Regions from separate parts of the Homo sapiens genome. Here region 1 is linked to region 2. Evidence: fine-mapped expression QTL. A gene starts in region 2. The other region holds a variant in brackets. All regions are shown on one strand. Distances are between the middles of the regions. Region 1 overlaps HPS3 (HPS3 biogenesis of lysosomal organelles complex 2 subunit 1). Region 2 holds the start of HLTF (helicase like transcription factor).

Region 1 (8,000 bases), 52 kb after region 2:
ACCCACAAATGAACATAAATAGAGCTGACTCTGGCTATGATGGTATCCAGATAACTTGTTTTCCACTTCACAGCTTTTCCCTTTTGGCCCCTTCCTTCCATTCACAATAACTGGGACATGAGGATTCCGGCTCAATGCCCAGTGTCCTCCTCTGTAGCAAGTCTCCTCCTCAAAAATGGAAAGAATCTTACATCAGCCATCTATGTTTACTAAAAATGCTTTTCAGGTCTCTACTCAAGCAGAAAACATTTTCAGGTTAAAAAAAATCTCAAATTAGCTGAAAGTTTTTAAAATAAAATTTGGGGGTATTAGGGAGAAAGCAGGTAGAAATTTTGAAGGATGGGGACCTCTGACATCGTCATCAGTAAGGGAAAATAAATTTAGGCTTTGTGTGTGATACGGTTTGGCTGTGTCCTCAGCTAAAATCTCATCTTGAATTGTAGTCCCCATAACCCCCACGTGTCAAGGGCGGGACCAGGTGGAGGTAATTGGATCATGGGGACAGTTTCCCCCATGCTGTTTCTCATGATAGTGAATTCTCATGAGATCTGATGGTTTTTAAGTGTCTGGCATTTCCCCTACCCACACTTATTTTCTGTCCTGCCGCCCTGTGAAGAGGTGCCTTCCACCATGATTATAAGTTTTCTGAGGTCCCCCCAGCCATGCAGAACTGCGAGTCAATTAAACCTGTTTTCTTTATTACCCAGTCTCAGGTATTTGCTTGTAGCAGTAATGTGAAAATGGACTAATACAGTGTGTAAAGCAAAGAAGAGGGGAGACCTGAGAACTCCTCACTCCTGAAAGAGAAAGACCTGGTGGCCAGGGTTGAGTGCTGTATGGGGACCTTTGGTGGTAGACACTTGTTTATGGGGTGTCTAGGGGTGGTGGGGCATGGAGGATGCAGACCACAAGGCTGTAATTGCCTGGCCATTAGCACAAGTGTACTAAACCAGCCCCAGCCCATCTACCCCTCCCACAAGCCCTACTTTCTCTCAGTTTTCCTGGAGTCATAAAACATATTTAGATGCCTTATAAATTATTTCTGCCTTGTGATTCAATTTTGTCATAGGAGTACAGCCTTTGATCTGGTATTACTGTTAGCCATGTTTGTGATCTTGCTACATAAAAGGGAAAGTTTACTTATTTTTAAAAATCAGTAACTCTAAGCTCAAGAGTAAAAATGAGAATGATTTTTCAATGTACTTAATAAAGACAGAAGCTGAGCCTGGGCTACATAGTGAAACCCTGTTTCTACATATGTGTGTGTGTATATATATACACACACACATTATAATATATGTATATACATATATATATACACACACACACACAAATTAGCCAAGTGTGGTGGCTCACACCTGTAGTTCCACCTACTTGAGAGGCTGAGGTGGAAGGATCACTTGAGTCCGGGAGGTGGAGGTTGCAGTGAGCCAAGACAACTTGGGCAACGGAGCAAGACACTTAAATTTAAAAAAGGTAAAATGAGGCACTGCACACATAAAGCTTAAAAAATTTAGTTCCCTTCTCTTTTAAAGGGTTATAGCCTCCACAGACTCCTGTAGAGTTGTATTTCCCTTCTATCAGTTGGGGAAACAGCATTACTGGGCAAAGAACATAAACTTTTGAGCTAACCAGATCTAGGTTTGAGTCCCAGTTTCCTAATTTGTTCGTTGTGTTGCCTTGGACAAGTTACTTTGCTTGTCTGTGCTTCAGATTCCTGATGTATAAAATGAGGAGGGAGATTTGTATCTTAAAGGGCTGTTGTGAGAGTTAATTGAAGGAACTCTAAAGCTCTGATCATAAGGATTGTCAGGCAGGCACATTTAGCAAGTGCTGGATCATCATTTAAAGACCAGGTCATTAATCTGAAAGCACACAATACAACATGGACACTATCTACAATTTGCATACTATAAACATTAGTTAATATATGAATTTTATAGATGAAATGGGCATGTATTTATAGGTATATGAATAAAAAGGTTTTATTGTAATTAAATATTCTTAGTTTTAAAATTTATTTACTAAATTATGATACCAAAAGTATAGGCAACAGAAGAAAAATAGATAAACTAGACTTTATCAAAGTTAATGACTGTTGTATATCAAAAGACTCATCAACAGATTGAAAAGACAACATGGAATGGGAGAAAATATTTCCGAATCATATATCTCATAAGGGATTAATATCTAGAATATATACAATAAAGAACTCTTACAACTCAACAACAACCAAAAAAACTTGATTAAAAAATGGGCTAAGGACTTGAATAGACATTTCTACAAAGAAGAAAATACATAAACGGCAAAAAACATAAGAAAAGATGCTCAAAATCACTGATAATTAGGGAAATGCAAATCCAAACCACAGTGAGATAGCACCTCACACCCATTAGTATGCCTGTTATTAATAAAACAGAAATTAACGTGTTGGGGAGAATGTGGAGAAATTGGAACCCTTAAACGTTGCTGGTAGGAATGTAAAATAACACAGCCTATGTGGAAAACAATATGGCAGTTTCTCAAAACATTAAACATAGAATTACCATATGATCCAGCAATTCCACTTCTGGGTGTATACCCAAAATAATTGAAAGCAGGGACTTGAATGGATACATGCACACCAATGTTTGTAGCAAAATTATTCACAAGAGCCAAAAGGTGGAAACAGTCCAAGGATCCATTGACAAGTAAATGAGTAAATAAAATATATTGTATGAACATACAATAGAGTATTATTTGGCCTTAATGAAATTCTGATGCATGCCACAACCTGGATAAATCTTAGAGAAGTTATGCTAAGTGATACAAGCCTGATACAAAAGGAAAAATACTATATGGTTCAACTTACATGAGGTACCTAGAGTAGTCAAATTCATAGAGATAGTATAATGGTGGTCTCACCCTGGGGAGAGGGAGGAATAGGGAATTATTATTTAATCAGTGCAGAGTTTTTTAGTAGATGAAAAAGTTAGTTATAGAGATGGATGGTAGTGATGGTTGCATAGCAATGAGAAGATACCAGTGCCACTGATCTGTAGACTTAAAAATGGTGAAAATGTACATTTTATGTTGTGTGTATCGTACTACAATAAAAAAAATTTATTTATTTACTGGGGGAATTTTAGGAAGATGGAGGCCTCAACTTCATCCCAACTCTGTCCAAACTGCTTCCCTGGAAAAGTGAACAAACTTAGGGCACCTGCAGGATCTCTTTAGGCATTCTACGATCTCCAGGGAAAGAACAGGTTCAGGCTCCATCTCTGTGGCATAAAAAGAACCATCATCAGGAGAAAGCTTGCTACCTGTAGAAGTCAGGATCATTTTGGAGGAGGGAGCCTGGTCAGCCCAGTGAATGTCTGCAGAAAGGGGCAGCACCTGTTTGCTTGCCTCATAAGTACATGGGAAGTCAATGTAATGGCAGCATTTCAATTTCAATTCATCGGAAAAGGGCCAATTTGCTTAATAGTGTTAATATAATAGAGTCTACATTTGGAAGAAGTGACATTAGATCCTCTGACTTATCTCCTTCTTTACCCGCAAAATTCTAAAGATTAAAAATGTATATTTTCTAAACCTCCACTAAAATAGAAGAAAATATAGGAGCATATTTATGTAATTTGGAGGACATGGATGGGAACTCAGAAGGCAAGGAGGAAAAGATACATATAGTATACTCTAAATAAAAAGGGTATGGTAAAACATGCCATCAGCAAAGTCAAAATCAGAAAATAGACTCTAAAACCATTTACTATTTATAGACGACAAAAGGTTTATATCCCTTTTAAGTAGAGAGCTACAGTGTCATGATAAGAAAAACAAATGAACAACTTAATAAAAATTGGACATCATGCAGAAGAGAAACTATACATGGCTGATAAACGTAGGAAAAGATGGCCAGCTTTATAAAAAGGTCTAGGAAATGTAAATTATAATAGCCGTGAGAGTCCATGTTTCTCTCATTGTGTAGAGTCAGTGCTAGTGAGGATGTGGGGAAACAGGTGTGTTTAAGCACTGCTGCTGGTAACATGAATTTCTATTATCTAATTGATAGT[A/C]ATTGGGCAATATTGAAATTTAAAATGCCCATGCCCTTTGGCCCAACATATCTCACTTTTGGGAATCTGTACCGTTAAAATAAATCCCCCAGTAAATAAATATATAGATATAAGCCTATGTATTACTATGAAACATAGTGGCAAAAAACCCTGGAAATATATTTGAATGCTTATCAGTAAGGGAATTATTGAATAAATTATGCGTATGTATGTACATATGGGATGTTGAACATATTGAAAAGGATGTTAGATATCCATGTATCAGCCTGGAGGGAGAGATTTATTAATAATTTTTAAAAGTTGCAGATTGTTAAATATATTTAATATGATTACATTTTAGTTTTTGTTCATTTTTAAAAAAGACAGAATACCTCTCTGTGATCTCTGTTTATATGAGAGAAAGGTGTTGAAAGGCACATACCAGGCTGTGTGTTAACATTGGGTCCTCAAGGGGGAGATCATTATGCTTTTCATTTTGCATCTCTTTACCACGTTACCATTTTGACTTCCCACAACCAATATATGTTTATAAGTTAAAACTTATACAATCAACAATTTAGAGAAAATTAACTTGGATCTGTATTTTCTTTGCTATTTCCAACTTTATCCTGTTTCTCAGACTTGTGACTTGTGGGAAGGAGAGGGTTTGAAATGTAAATTCTGCTAATCTGAGAATTCCTTAATGTATACCTAATTTTGGTGTCACCCTAATAGTGAATTCTGTGTCAGTAGAGCTTTGTTAGAACTGCAGATTTAGAGCTACAGTAAACACTTAATTTTACATTTTATTCCTTATATGAACTTTCTGTATGTTACATGGGCAATTAATAGGTTGTCTTAAGACACTCAGATGGGAGAGATTGCATTTCAGAACCTCAAAGCCTAATGTCAGTCAAAAATACACCTAAGATTTTGTTACTTAGGGTTTTATTCTATTCAGTCTTTAATTCGACCATTTGTGTTAGAATTCATTAATAGTACTCATGTCAGCAAGGGAGGTGGTTGTATTTCTAATTACAAATTCTCAGTATAATCTTCATTCCTTCTCAGGAGATTATTTGGTAGCAATTGAAGAGAAAAACAAAGCTACATTTCTACGTGCTTATGTGAACTGGAGAAATAAAAGGACTGAAAACTCTCGTGTGTGTATCCGAATGATTGGGCATAATGTGGAGGGACCATTCAGCAAAGCCTTCAGAGACCAGATGTACATTATTGAAATGCCGCTTTCGGAGGCCCCCTTGTGCATTTCCTGTTGCCCTGTGAAAGGAGACCTTCTCGTTGGCTGCACAAATAAATTAGTCTTATTTAGTTTGAAGTACCAGATCATTAATGAGGAATTCTCACTATTGGACTTTGAACGTTCTTTAATTATACACATAGATAATATCACTCCTGTTGAGGTTTCTTTTTGTGTTGGATATGTTGCTGTCATGTCAGACTTAGAAGTCTTAATCGTAAAACTGGAGTCAGGCCCTAAAAATGGAGAGAGAGTTCACCACCATCCACATAAGACCAACAATCGAATAAGACGGACAGAAGAAGGTAAATAATGAATTTGACTTGCTTTCTTGTTTTAGGAATATAGAAAACCTTCACCTTTGGCAGTCTGAAGGTCTGTGGTATATATGGTGCCCGGCCATGTTATTTATAGATTTAGTTATTCCTATTTCATGGGATTTGGTTTTATGATCTGGCTGTCCATAGCTTACTCTGTAGCATGTGAATATATTTATCAGTAGAAGTAATGGAACAACCACTGCTAGATGAGGGGCTTCTAGTCCTAGTCCTCATAGTTACTAGTTGAATGACCTTGGGTTAATAATACCATCTCTGAGTTTCAACATCCTCATTTGTAAAATGGGGATGATAATACCTACCCTGTTGTACTTTATCAGTTGTGGAGATTAAATGAGCAAGTGCTAAGTCTTTTCACAACCACAGTGCCTTGTAAATGTGTGCATATTATAAATAAATGAAATTACTATATGTCTAATTGGTGAGAGGATGTTGTAAAATCTAATTTTCATTCAAGCAGGACTGTTACATTTTATTTTTTTAAGGCATCAGTAATGAAATTTCACAGCTTGAGTCAGATGATTTTGTCATCTGCCAGAAGCCCCTGGAACTTCTTGGTGAAAAAAGTGAACAGTCTGGATTATCTGTTACACTGGAGTCTACGGGATTAGCTGATGAAAAAAGAAAATATTCCCACTTTCAGCACCTGCTCTATAGGTATTATAGTGCTTTTTTTTTTTTTACCAGCATTTTATGTATATATGCCTGCTTAAAGTACATGGAAGTTATATTTTTCCCTTTCTCTGTCTTTTTAAACCCACAGACGTTTTGCTCCTGATATTTCGTCCTATGTCTTGTCTGATGACATCAAGCTACATTCCCTCCAGCTGCTACCCATTTACCAGACCGGTAAGCATGACAGTGCAGGAGTGCGACAGTGCAGCAAGGTGAAAATGCTCTGTCTGGGCTGGGAGTGAAGACCCATGTGGGTAATAGGTTTGGTGGTTTGGTTCTTCCACTGGAGTCTCCTTGTGGCCCTTTAACAAAGTTTTTTTTTTTGTTTTTTTTTTTTTTTTTTTTTGAGACTGAGTCTCGCTTTATTGCCAGTCTGGAGTGCAGTGGTGCGATCTCGGCTCACTGCAACTTCTACTTCCTGGGTTCAAGTGATTCTCCTGCCTCAGCCTCCCGAGTAGCTGGGACTACAGGCGCCCGCCACCAAGCCCGGCTAAATTTTTTTGTATTTTTAGCAGAGACGGGGTTTCACCATGTTGGGCAGGATGGTCTCGATCTCCTGACTTTGTGATCTGCCTGTGTTGGCCTCCCAAAGTGCTAGGATTACAGGCATGAGCCACCACACCCGACCTCTATTTTATTATTATTTATTATTTTTTTTCTTGAGACAGAGTTTTGCTCTTGTTGTCCAGGCTGGAGTGCAATGGTATGATCTTGGCTCACTGCAACCTCCACCTCCCGGGTTCAAGTGATTCTCCTGCCTCAGACTCCCGAGTAGCTGGGATTACAGGAATGCCCCACCACGCCCAGCTAATTTTGTATTTTTAGTAGAGATGGGGTTTCTCCATGTTGGTCAGGCTGGTCTCGAACTCCCGACCTCATTGATCCGCCCACCTCGGCCTCCCAAAGTGCTGGGATTACAGGTGTGAGCCACCACACCCGGCCCAAAATCCTTAGCAAATACCTATGAGTACTAGAAAGGGAAGTCATACCTGCTAGGAGAAGCCATGGAGAAGGCATGACAGACTGAACTCATTTCCCTTTTTGAAATGGCCTCTAGGCCCAAAAAGGAAATTGGAGACCTGTTAGAGCCAAGGTATGTGTGGGTTCTAGCTGGGTATTTGGCCAAGCTTCTTATGATTGGCTTGTGAATTAGGTGTAAAAATGTGGACTGAATGGAAAATAATTTAGAGCAGTTGTTTTCAACCCTGCCACACAATGGGCTTACCTGAATGCTTTTTAAGATATTGATACTCAGGCTCTACATGCAAGATATCAGTTACAGGGCCTGGGCATTAGTATTTTTTAAAAACTCCCCAAGAGTCTAATGGGCACCATGATTGAGAATCACTAATAGGCCCTGCACTCAGTTCTGGCCTGATTAACATCTTTAGATGTTATCTAGAGAAAGATACAAATATTATTCCGATTAAATGTGTTTCTAACCTTCATTTTTTTTTCTTTTAGTAAATATTTATTGAGTACCTACTATGTTGAGCATTGTGCTGAATACTAGGGAACTAACAGTGAGTGAAGTGCTTGCTCTTACGGAGCTAATTGTCTAGTGGGGGAAGGGAGACATTCGAATAACGGCAGATTCACAGTTGTACCCTGAAATGAGTGATCTGTGGTAAACCTCCCTGTGACAGCCTATAACAAAAGACCCTGACCTCATCTTGAGGTCAGGGAAGGCTT
Region 2 (13,462 bases):
CCTCTGCCACTGCCTACAGGATGATCTTTTTTAAACCGGATTATGCAAATCCTAGAAAATACATAACCAAAATAAAAAAGCAGGGCACAAAACTAACAATTTTTGAGCATTTCATCTCAAGGTATTACATAATTGTAATTTATCATAATAAGCTATCATTAATTACAATTAGTTAACTGTCGTTACAAATAAGTAATTACTAGAATTTTAAATAAAATATATATGAGCCAAAATATTGGAGACTATAAAAACAAAAACATGGTCCCAGCAGCAAGAAAAAACAGGACATATAAAAAAACAAAAAGACAAAGACAAGAATAACAAAAGGAATGAGAATTAATCATAACAGTATAGTCATACCCCGCATAACAACATTTCAGCAATGACAGACCACATGCATTATGCAACAGTTGTTCCACAAGATTATAATGGGGCTGCCCTATAGAAGTGTACCATTTTTCATATTTTATACAATATTTTTACTGTACTTTTTTCATGTTATATATGCTTAAATACACAAATGTGTTACAATTGCCCACAGTATTCAGTAAAGTAACATCTTGTTCACTCTGTTTCCACAAAGAAATCACCTAACACTTTTCTCAGAAAGTATCTTCATTGTTAAGCAACACATAACTGTATTTTAAAATAGAAAAAGAAATAAACCACATTATAAAATAAAGCCTTTGATGGGTCAAAAAATAAACTTAACCATATGCTTATTGAAAACACACTAAAAAAAAAAAAACAAAAAATAAAAATGAAATAAGAATAAGAAAACACCAGAGTTAAAAATAAAGAATGCTACTACATAACAAAACGTGGTGGCTAAAGGCAACGCAATACTTAACACGTTTAAAGATTAAAAGATTAAATGACTCAAATTAAGTGCTCAAATCGCAAGTCCAACAGAAATGAAAAGAAAATAAATCTAAGTAGAAAAACCGAATGTAAGAGTAATTATTAAGCCAAGAAACACAATCATTAAGAAAAATTCAAGAGAGCCTGCCTTGAAAAGAAATAATGTCATAGCTAATCAATAAAAAAGACACGAATGTGTAACACAAAGAATAAAAACAGGAATATAATCACCTTTTTAAAAAAGTTTTTAAAAAGTTTAATGGAGCCAATAAGGCATATAAAATTATGTTCTGGCAGACATTAAAAAAATGGCACATTTTATCAAAATTTGACAATTCAGAGTAAAGGGTACTGAAATTTAAGGTTCAGAGCACCAACTTAAAACAACCAAAAAAATGGTTATTCAACTTGGAAAGAGTAACTAGAACCAAGGCATAAAAGGGAGTTTAAGTATGTGTTCCTCCAATTCAAAATCCTTCAGGAATAGGAGTTCTGGCCACTTGTGAGCAACACATCATACCACCAAACCCCAATTCCAGAAAATTACAGTTACAATTTTATAAGGATAAATGATTACTATGCACAATTCTATGGGAATAAGTTTGAATATCTAAATAAAATGGATGCTTTTCTTCAAAAATGTAACTAACCAAAATAGACCAAAGAAGTACCTAAATTATGCTGAGTGAAAAACGCCAGACTTAAAATAGTACATACTGTAGAATTCAATGTATATGAAGTTCTAGAATAGGCAAAACTTATTTATAGTGATAGAAGACTTGTGTGGCCGGGCGCAGTGGCTCACACCTGTAATCCCAGCACTTTGGGAGGCCGAGGCGGGCGGATCACGAGGTCAGGAGATACAGACCATCCTGGCTAACACGGTGAAACCCCGTCTCTACCAAAAATACAAAAAAATTAGCCGGGCATGGTGGCAGGCGCCTGTAGTCCCAGCTACTTGGGAGGCTGAGGCAGGAGAATGGCATGAACTTGGGAGGCGGAGCTTGCAATGAGCCGAGATCCCGCCACTGCGCTCCAGCCTGAGAAACAGAGCGAGACTCCGTCTCAAAAAAAACAAAAAAAAAGAAAAGAAATGAGACTCGTGGCTGCCTAGGGCAGGAACAGGGAAAAATGAATGCAATAGGATACAAGATACTTTGAGGGAGACGGATACAATCTGTATCTTGATTGGGGTAGTAGTTATCAGGTATACATCTTTGTCAAAACACTAGGATCATACATTTAAAATATGTACATTTTATCATACGTAAACCACATCTCAATAAAGTAGAAAAAAAATTAAAATAACAAGTATGCAAAGATAGTATCTCAATTTTTATTATTTTTATAATAGTGATTAACTCAAAAATGTCCATCAACAAGGAAATTATAAGTCCAATATAGATGATATTCCTAATCACATTAGGCATAATATGATCTCATTTTTATTAATACATAATATGATTCCAATTTACATGCACATGCTCACAGAAACAAGTGTAGAAGATAAGTTATGGTTCTGGATGATAGACTTCAGAAGATTTAATGCCTTTTTAGCCATTTAAAAATAATGAACGTGGCTGGGCGCGGTGGCTCATGCCTGTAATCCCAGCACTTTGGAAGGCCGAGGTGAGTGGATCACCTGAGGTCAGGGGTTCAAGACCAGCCTGACCAACATGGCAAAACCTCATCTCTCCTAAATACAAAAAATTAGCTGGGCATGATGGCGCATGCCTGTAATCCCAGCTACTTAGGAGGCTGTTGCAGGAGAACCGCTTGAACCTGGGAGGCGGAGGTTGCAGTGAGCCAAGATTGCACCATTGCACTCCAGCCTGGGCAATGCAAGCAAGACTCCGTTTCAAAAAAAAAACAAAAACAAATAAAAGAACATGCATTAATTATAAAATAAATGATATCTCAACATAGTGTTCCTGGAAAAAAATAAAATTTAAAGTATATATATTTGGCAAAATAAGAAAACTGATGATTACTTTTTATCAACACACACTAGAGTTTACCGAAGTCATAGAGATTATTCTCAGATCAAAAATACTGATTGTTCTAAGATCAATAACTACCATAATCTAGTATTTCATGGTGGTATAAAATAATTATCGAAAGCAATGTAAGTTTTGAAAAATTAGCACAAATCTGAAACAGAAAAGCTCAGAAATGCATATGAGAGCCAGAGAATATATAGATGTGAAATAAGAACTGATAGAGTTCAAGAATCTATTAGAAAAAATTAGAGGCCGGGTGCAGCATCCCAGCACTTGGAGAGGCCAAGGCGGACGGATCACTTGAGCCCAGGAGTTCCAGATCAGCCTGGACAACATGCCAAAACCTAAAAAAAAATACAAAAAAAAAAAATACAAAAATTAGCTGGGTATGGTGGTGAACGCCAGCAGTCCCAGCTACTCAGGAGGCTGAATTGGGAGAATTGCTTGAGTCTGGGAGGCAGAGATTGCAGTGAGGCCAGATCAGGCCACTGCACTCCAGCCTGGGCAACAAAACGAAACTTGGTCTCAAAAAAAAAGAAAAAAAAAAAAATCCAATTCACTTAAGTGAAAGAAAATCACACTGGCCTGAGAATTCTATGCAACATTAGGATATGGAGATTTTATTACAAAGATTTTATTACAAAGATATATTACAAAGATTTTAAATTCAGCCCAACTGTCATTAAGTCCTTCATAACTTTCATTTTATGAAACTGTCATTCATAAAATGCCACAAGTATGAAAATATAAAAACTTAGGAAATATTGTCTCTTCCTAAGGAATCTCCTAGACAACACATTTCAGACAATCAAAAAACAATTTGAAACGTTCCAATGTAAAGGAAATACAGGAGAAAAACAAATCCAGAACATGAAACTCCTAAGGAATCTCCTGTCGAACATGCTTCAGACACCCTATTGAGAAGCTTAAACATAAGAAACATACGGAGAAATGAAAGAATAAAATCCAGAAGATTCCACAAAACGATCTCCTTTTTGCAACAAATCGATGACATGAACAAGGCGCTGGGGTGTGGGGGTGGGGTGCTACCCATAATAACCAAACATAACGCACTGAGGCCAAGCATATTGGCTCATTCCTGTAATCCCAACACTCTGGGAGGCTGAGGTGGGAGGGTCACTTAAGGTATTTGTTATTTTTTGCGTACAAATATTTAACTAACTTAAAGTAAAATAAAGATTAACCGCACACATCACCTGCGAATTCTCTTATTTTCTAGGTTAACGCCAGAAATATAATCAAAATTTAATTATCTACTATTATACTCACTACTCCCGTGTAATAGCGTAGTCCAACCACATGACCTCTCAAACTTCCAAATAAAACGGAATCTACTTCTTCATCACTAGTTAGAAAGTCATCTGGAGGGATAACATCTTGGAATTCAAAACGTGGAAAGAAAGTTGGATATGAGAGGCGTGGAAAATTTCCATGAACTCCATACTGGACAGTCTGCAAGTACTTCCAAACTGGATCCCTATTTTTTTTTAAAGGCAAAGAAAAACAATATAATATTTAAGTATTTCCAAAGACCATATGAGTAGTTTTCTCATGCTTTACTTCAGCAAATGAAATCTTACATGGGAATCACGGTAAAGATTAATAGTTACTCTCGTTAAAGCAGGAATTGCAGTGAGTGGAGAAGGCTTCTAGGAACTCTACCTGTTTTCAATATTGGCTCTTCTACCTGCCCCCTAGGTATTCAAAATGAAAAGCCTAGTCAGAGTTCACTAACCTCTTTCCCAGTGAAAATCATCTAAATTGATATGTATATGATGTCTGTAACTACAATTATGGGCCGGATGCGGTGGCTCACGCCTGGAATCCCAGCACTTTGGGAGGCAGAGGCAGGTGGATCACCTGAGGTCAGGAATTTGAGACCAACCTGGCCAACATTGTGAAACCCTGTCTACTACAAATACAAAAATTAGCCAGGCGTGGTGGCGCCCATATGTAATCCCAGCTACTCGGGAGGCTGAGGCAGGAGAATCACTTGAACCCGGGAGGCGTAGGTTGCAGCGAGCCGAGATTGTGCCACTGCACTCCAGCCTGGACGACAGAGCGAGACTCCATGTCAAAAAAATAATTTAAAAAATGAAATCATATGCCAAAATTTCAATAGGGATTGAGCTATATAAAAGACTTATAAAAATACAACTATTAATGTACCAGAAGTTGTTTATAATTTTCCAGAAAATACATCCAGCATCCATCACTGTAACTCCCTGCGAGCAGAACACCTATTCTGGTATCCAAACCACGCCACCGTGGGAAATTGGCCCCAAGCCACCCGTACCCGCCTTCCGTCGCCGGTTTAAGCATAACCCCAAACCCATTAGGTGTAACTGTTTCGGGAATGACCATAAATACCAATTTGGACAATGAAAAGTGAAGGGGAGTCTACTGGAGCATTGCAAAAAGTTTCCATTCTCCTAAGAACAGTCGCTTATTTGCGATGCGTTTTCCTTGCAAGTGGCGCATATCTCTACTAGCGCCTCTGCAAATACTTATCTGCACGTCTGTGCATACAGATAAGCTGTGAGCCACTTGGGGACAAGGACTGTCTTACTCGGCCCTCCACCGAGCACAATGCCTGGCGCACAGTGGGTATCTAATGGATGTTTTGTTAAATAAAGCACTGGCCGAGATGCTTTAAGCCCCAGGCCCCCCACAGTCGGTGACAGAGATTTCCCAAGTCCCTAACACGGGACTCGCCCTAGGAGCCCCTACTCGCCAGCGAAGACAATGCATTTATTTCTCCGGCGGCCACATATGCGACCAACAGAACGAATACAGCTGCACAAATCGCCCAGGGAACGCAGAGGAACGCGGGGAAGGTCAGGTTCATTTGGGGACGCCTCCAGGCCGTTAGACCGAGCGCCCCACCCCCTCCGCCCCCTTCACCTCTTGAACATCCAGGACATGGCGCTGAGTGGGATGACAAGAGGAGCGCCTCGGCTCCCCTGGATCGTTTTCGAGCCGCCTCGATACGCCTCCTTCCAGGCCCCGCAGCCCTGAAGCCGGGGACAAATTCCGAGCGCCGGATCAGGAGCGCACGACTGAAAGGTAAGTCGCCGCGAGTCCAGTCAGACGTCGACGCCGTCTCCTTCTGCAACAATCTGGGAGACCAGCGTCGCTCTGTGACTGGCACTAGGAAAGCCCAATCACGAAGAGGAGAGTGCGGAGCCAAACCAGTCAGAGCACAGAAGGGAGGGCAACTCCGCCCCGCTGCCATTCAAAGACGGCGGGGGGTCCGGGCTGCAAGGGTGGTTCCATCCGGGTTCTTCCCCGCCCCCAAGGCGGGCGCGCGGGAAAGCCACGAGGCCCCAGGAGTGCGACTGCGGTGCCTGCGGTGCCGGTGTTTTGTTTGATTCCCTGCCTCAAACGGAGGGAAACGACCTTCCTTTATCCTACGAGTCCTAAGACTGAACCCCATTCTAAAGGCTCTACCGTATCCTTCCTCTTATTTTCTTCTCATCTAATGTGGCACATAATAGGGCCTTATACTAAAGGAGCTCCACGGTTTACGAGACCTAGAGCTACCGGCGAGATACTTTACTTCATTCCCTGTGGTGAACCGTGGGGACTTTCGCTCCAAATTTTCATGTTAAGCCTCAGCGTATGCATGAGACACAACGAGTTTGGAAAATCTTAAATGGAACTTAGAGTCCCCTCCCCACCTCTTTTTGTTATTTTTAAGGAAAATTTTCCTTTCTTGGTGCAGGAAACCCATCACATGTTTATTACAGCTATGGGGGCGTTTGCCTGAAATGGTGGACGGGACCATTTTCCCCGTGGGCACTTGGCTGCTCCAGCCAAGAGGGGGAGGCCCTTGTTTTCCTCAAGGAACTGCAGAGGGGCGCTCTGAGGCCCTCCATGGCTCTCTTTCCAGAGTCTGAGGTGACCGGAAGGAGAATGCGGCCCTGGGACCGTCAACCTTGGACCAGCTGCAGCCGACGCCTGGCAGGGCTGGTCGCTTTGCGTTGAGGAGGCTGCTGTCCCCGAAGCTGGCCTTTTAATCGCACAGGGCAGGAAGCTGGTGGTGGCGCCCAGCTGCACAGGCGGCACCATGTAACTGCCAGATAATACTTGCGCGTCACAGAGAGGTCCATGTTACACGCCTGTCAGCACAATAATATTAGGTGGTCAGCTTTTCTTTTTTCTTTTTTTTGTTTTTTTTTCTTTTTTATTGAGATGGAGTCTTGCTCTGTCCCCCAGGCTGGAGTGCAATGGGGGTGATCTTGGCTCACTGCAACCTCCGCCTCCCGGATTCAAGCGATTCTCCTGCCTCAGCCTCCGGAGTAGCCGGGATTGCAGGAGCCCGCCACCACGCCCAGCTAATTTTTGTATTTTTAGTAGAGACGGGGTTTCACCATATTGGCCAGGCTGGTCTTGAACTCCTGACCTCAGGTGATCCGCCCGCCTCGGCCTCCCAGAGTGCTGGGATTACAGGCATGAGCCACCGTGCCAGGCCGGTAGTCAGCTTTTCAAGACACATTTGTTCATTATCGTAAATAAACTGTAGTGATCTCTAATCATGAACCATGGATGAGCAATAGAATTTGAAACAATGTATTATTTCATTTGACCAAAGTTGATGAGGAAGATAAAGACAATGGCATTTCAAATTATTTTAATTGTTGTATGTTCTTCTTGAAGTGTGTTGAGGCAAATGGCAATACAGTTCAGCTTTTAGTATGCCAGATTTTAAATAAATTCTTGGAAAATATGCCAGAAATTGCTCAAATTGATGTTTTGTAAGAGTAAGAAAGTCATGCTCACTAGACAAAGAAAAAATTCCAAATATGAGAACATAGCTCTTTCAGACTTAAGACTGGCCAGGCGCAATGGCTCACACCTATAATCCCAGCACTTTGGGAGGCCGAGTTGGGTGGATCACCTGAGGTCAGGAGTTCGAGACCAGCCTGGCCAACATGGTGAAAGCCTGACTCTACTAAGAAAATACAAAAATTAAGCAGACGTGGTGGCACGCACCTGTAGTCCTAGCTACTTGGGAGGCTGAGGCAGGAGAATCGCTTGAACCAGGGAGACATGGGTTGCAGTGAGCCGAGATCAAGCCACTGCACTCCAGCCTGAGCAACAGAGCGAGACTCCATCTCAAAAAAATAAAAAGACTTAAGATCTATGAATAATGACTGTCCCATGGTTAAAGAATGTGCTTTGAATGAACTAAAATTTGCTATTTAAAGGAATGGTATGGAAAGGAAAGGAATCCAAAATTTCTCCATCCAGCCACTTCCCAGTCACAAACACACTTCTCATCTGCACCCCCAGCCACACACACACACATGCCCGCGCGCGCGCACACACACACACACACACACACACACACAGAACCTTTATGCAAATTAATCATGTCATGTCACTCCCCTGTTTGATTCAGTGAGCCTGAAATCCAAGAATGGCATATGTGGCTCTTCCTCCCACAGTATGTTTTCTCTATGTTATCAATATTTCACATCCCAGAACCAGGAGTAAAACATTCTTTCCCTTAATCATTCTTTGTTTTATATTTAAAGATCAAGTACAATTTGTACTAGTTTGATTAAAATGTTACAGCAATTACAATTTCAAAACTATTATACTAAATAATGTTTTCTGAAAAATTAACTTTTTTGGTTTTTTCTTGATTTATTCTGATAACAGCATCACAAGTAGATATGAAAAATGAACACTTGTAACTGGAAAATGAACTGTAGGGTGGCTTGTGGGGTTTGGCTGGTGAGTAAGAAGGAAAGTGGCACTAAAAGGACGGTGGGGAAGATAAGGGCCAGGTTACATAGGAACTTAAGAGTCTCCAGTAAAATTTGTGTTTTAACTGCAATGGAAAGCCATTGAATGTTTCGAGCAGGAGGATAACGACTTGATTTAGGCTTTTAAAAATGCTGGCAGCTCTGTGGAGAATTACAGGAAACAAGGATAGAAGCAACTGATAGAAAATTATTGTGTTCAGATAAGAGATGGTGGTGGCTTGGAAAGGGAAGGTGATGAAGCCAAGAGAACCAAAATGTTCACTGATAAATTTAGGTAGGAATGGTATGGAAAGGAAAGGAATCCAAAATTTCTCCAGCCAGCCACTTCCCAGTCACAAACACACTTCTCATCTGCACCCCTAGCCACACACACACATGCCCGTGCACACACACACACACACACACACACAGAACCTTTATGCAAATTAATCATGTCATGTCACTCCCGTTTGATTCAGTGAGCCTGAAATCCAAGAATGGCATATGTGGCTCTTCCTCCCACAGTAGCTTCATTTCTCGGGTCACTTCCCAACCCACCCTGCCTATAATGGCCTTCACTAATTTCTCTAAAAACCATGGACCTGGCAAAATTAATAACAAATCACTTCTTAGTATCTTCTAATAACTAGTTCATAATCAAATGTTCACAATTGTCTCAAAAAAAAAATTTTTTTTTTTCTTGAGACAGGGTCTCACTCCAGTAGCCCAGGCTGGAGTGCAGTGGCGTGATTCGACCTCCTGGGCTCAAGCGATTCTCCAGCCTCAGCCCCCAAGTAGCTGCGATTACAGGCATGGCACCACCACCCCCAGGCTAATTTTTGTATTTCTTGTAGACAGGGGGTTTTGCCACATTGGCCAGGCTGGTCTCGAACTCCTGAGCTCAAGCAATCTGCCCGCCTTGGCCTCCCAAAGTGCTGGGATTACAGGCGTGAGCCACTTTTTCTAGGCCTTTTCTAGGCTGGGTGTGGTGGCTTACGCCTGTAACCCTGGTATTTTGGGAGGCCGAGGTGGGCAGATCACTTGAGGCCAGGAGTTCAAGACCAGCCTGGCCAACATTGTGAAACCCTGTCTCTACTACAAATACAGAAATTAGCAGGGGGTGATGGTGCCATACCTGTAGTCCCAGCTACTTGGGAGGCTGAGGCAGGAGAAGCACTTGAACCCAAGAGGCGGAGATGGCAGCGAGCCGAGATCGTTCCACTGCACTCCAGCCTGGGTGACACAGCGAGACTCCCTCTCAAAAAAAAATGTTTTTTACACTTTGCAAAATAGAATTTTAAAGCCATTGGTGTGGGGGCAGGGACCAGGCAGCAGGGAGGGGCTTTAAGAGAAGAATCTGAATATCTAGAAATCTGGCTTCAATACAGAAACTTTTAAGCTTATATCATAACTCATAGACTGAAGAAAGTAGGATGATGTAAGAGCTTGCTTGTTTGTTCGCTTCTTTCACTCCAAAGGAGATAAAAGTTCAATTGAGGAGAATTTTCAAGAATGTCAGGCAGGAGGGTTTGCAGAGTAAATCCCTTAAGTGGGTCTTAGAGAGAAGACCTAGAATACCATCACACTGGGCCAATCTGCACAAAGGGAGAATGCTAGAAAGTCTAGCAAAGTTTCTGTAGATTACACAAGAAAAGGAAGCTATGCCACATTTCCCAGAGAGTGGCCTCAGTATTCTGCAGATCTCAGAGAGAACCTCAGAGACTAGAAATGTGCCAAGGCAATAAAGGAGTAAAGGTGACTGAGGTGGCTCTGTTAAGGGGACCCGGGGTAGCCTTGTGAGCCTCTAGCCCTGTGAAGGCTGGAGGGCATCATCAGGATTATGGTTCTAGCAAACAAAAGCAGGATGCTGGTCCCCAACGGTGAGGTGAGATGAGTTACATCTGCAATGGGTGACTGCATTAGATGAATGGAGTCCAAATATAACCTCCCTGGTGGGTAAGACGAAGGGAACTAAATCTGAAAGCTGAATTTAAATGACTTTAAATCTTAAAATGACTGAACTATTCAGAAGTGACTAAATTAGGTTACCTGCCATTAGGCAGAATGAAGGTTTAAGAAAAATTAAGTTCAATAAAGAAATATAAAGTTTTACATTTGCAAATATAGTCAGTGATTGAAATTCATACATGCTATATGTCCATATGCACACATCTTGATGAAGATATACCTAGATATTTATAGTAAATACCTCTAGCTGGTTAAATTAGGGAATTTTCATTTTCTTCTTTTTACTTATATGTATATAAAATATTTGCTACATTAAACATGTATTTCTTTTTGCCATAATAAAATAAAATGAGTAATTTATTAAAGAAATGATGAACTATTATTCAGCTTTATTTTTATCTAATTGTAGACTTACAGAAAATTACAAATTTAGTACAAATTGTTGCCTCATATCCTTTATGCCACTTATTTTAATACCGTACATAACTATAGTACAATGACCAAAATGAGGATATGAACATTGGTACAATACTATTTCTGAACCATTTTTTTAAATAACCAAGACAATGCAGTGGAAAAGAAAATATAATATTTTGTGACTTATTAAATTTTCTTATAATCAGGTTTCTCTAGATTTTGGACAAAATCCTGAGTAAAACCACAGCTGACAGGGCCAAAGTGATATTAAATTAATGCCAAGTAAAAATCTTCTTAATTAAATAATATAATGAATATGAAGTGCTGCCCTGGAGTAAGCACTCAGTAAGTGCTCTTATTGTTGTAATAGAGTTATTGTCTAACGAGTCCTCTAGCACTTAAGAAATATGGTTGATTGAGGCCTATTTTCCTTATTGAGGCTCAATCAGCAGGGTTGTTCCTAAATAGCAGAATAACACTGTTTCCAGAAGCCAGTCATTTTTCCAGGTGCACGTCCTTGAAGTAGACTGAATTGTTTCATCAAGCGGTAGGAGACACTCTAATCTCAACTCCGCGTCTGAGAAATCTGTGGTGTTCCAGATTATATAGCCCTTTCCCAGGAGATAATTGTTCCCTCCTCCTTTAGGCCTTGACTCACTAAATGCTCTTATGTGGCTCAAGCCCAGGGTTGCAAGGCATCAGGCCAGCCAGGGATCTGCCCCCTCCTTTGCTTTCTGCCCAGGGTCCTTTCCCCAGCTTCAGGGAAGTACCACTCTAGGCCCTGGAATGATTTAGGGTTTCTGTCATGGCCATACCAAAGTAATCTTTTTATTTTAATGAAAACTGCAAGGATTAATAAACATTTTTTCTGCCTCCTTTTTTTTTTTCCTCTTTTAAGACAGGGTCTTGCTCTGATGCCCAGGCTGGAGTGCAGTGGCACAAACAAGCTCACTGCAGCCTCAAACTTCTGGGCTCAATTGATCCTCCTACCTGTCTCCCAAGTAGCTGGGCCTACAGGCATACACCACCATGCCCAGCTAATTTTGTTTGTTCGTTTTTTTTTTGGAGAGACAGGTTGCCCAGGCTGGTCTTGAACTCCTGGGCTCAAGTGATCCTCCTACGCTCCTACCTCGGCCTCCCAAAGTGCTGGGATTACAGGCATGAGCCACACGCCCAGGCTTTCTGCCTCCTTTATGGCTAGAACATTAAAACTTCAACTCTAAATGCCCTTTTGATATAAGAAATACTACCTTTTTTTTTTTTTGACAAGAGTCTTGCTCTGTTGCCCAGACTGGAGTGCAGTGGTGCGTTTAGCTCACTACAACCTCCGCCTCCTGGGTTCAAGCAATTCTCGTGCCTCAGCCTCCCGAGTAGCTGGGACTACAGGTGCACGCCACTACGCCTGGCTAACTTTTGTGTTTTTTGTAGAGATGGGGTTTTGCCATGTTGCCCAGGCTGTTCTCAAACTCGTGCGCTCAAACAGTCTGCCTGCCTCAGCTTCCCAAAGTGCTGGGGTTACGGGCATGAGCCACTGCACCCAGCCTAGAAAGTGAGCAATTACATCGTAGTAGTAATTCACTGGTTTTCTTTTTTCTTAGAAAATAGGTTTCACTATGTTGCCCAAACTAGACTCAACTCAGGCTGCCCTACCAACTCAGCCTCCCAAGGAGCTGGGACTACAGGCATGGGCCATCTCACCTGGCTGTAAATGACTTTTTAAAATTATTATCACAATTCACCAAACTATTGCATCGTATGGCAATACTTATGCTAACCCTAAAATTAAGGTTTAACTTGCTAACTTGCTATTTCAAATAGCCTTTTAGAAAGTTAAGAAAAAAACCTCACAAAAAAACACATTTCTCAAATTTGAAGAAGAAAAGTAGGGTGCTGTGGCTCAAACTTGTAATCCAAGCATTTTGGGAGGCCAAGGTGGGAGGATCATTTGAGCCCAGGAGTTTGAGACCAGCCTGTGTAACACTGCAAGACCCCATCTCTATAAAAAAAAAAAACACAAAAATTAGCCAGGCGTGGTGGCACACACCTGAAATCCCAGCCACTTGGGAGGCTAGGGAGAAAGGATGGCCTGAGCTCAGGAGGTAGAGGCTGCAGTGAACTGTGTTTATGCCACTGCACTCAGCCTGGATAACAGAGTGAGGCCCTGTCTCAAAAAATAAAAAAAATAAAGCATTCCAATAGATTTTTAGAGGAACTTAATCTGATCCAATAGAATTAGAAATTCTAAGAGACTCAAATTAATGAACTAATGAAGTTTTAGGGTTAGACTATATTGATATACTATGCTATAATTAATATATATATTAAATTAGCAAATACATGTTAATTATCTCAATTAATATTGAATTGCTAACTTTGTAACATTTACAAGTAAAATTTCTAGCCGGGTGTGGTGGCTCATACCTGTAATCCTAGCACTTTGGG

The links.
Region 1: its variant is fine-mapped to the expression of HLTF in thyroid (GTEx, PIP above 0.99).

What each region holds. Positions count from the first base shown.
Region 1 is chr3:149,134,899-149,142,898 of GRCh38, forward strand. It overlaps HPS3 (HPS3 biogenesis of lysosomal organelles complex 2 subunit 1), which reads left to right. Exons shown (of 17, transcript NM_032383.5): 2 at 5,106-5,600; 3 at 6,119-6,290; 4 at 6,397-6,482. Among named protein-coding and RNA genes, the nearest start is that of HPS3, 9.3 kb to the left of the region's middle. The variant A/C (reference allele first, on the strand shown) is at 4,056.
Region 2 is chr3:149,080,531-149,093,992 of GRCh38, forward strand. HLTF (helicase like transcription factor) reads right to left here and starts at 6,003. Exons shown (of 25, transcript NM_003071.4): 1 at 5,787-6,003; 2 at 4,152-4,359. The coding sequence starts at 5,806. HLTF-AS1 (HLTF antisense RNA 1) reads left to right here and starts at 5,802. Exons shown (of 3, transcript NR_046648.1): 1 at 5,802-5,948. RefSeq lists enhancers at 5,330-5,847, 5,753-5,962, 5,848-6,365.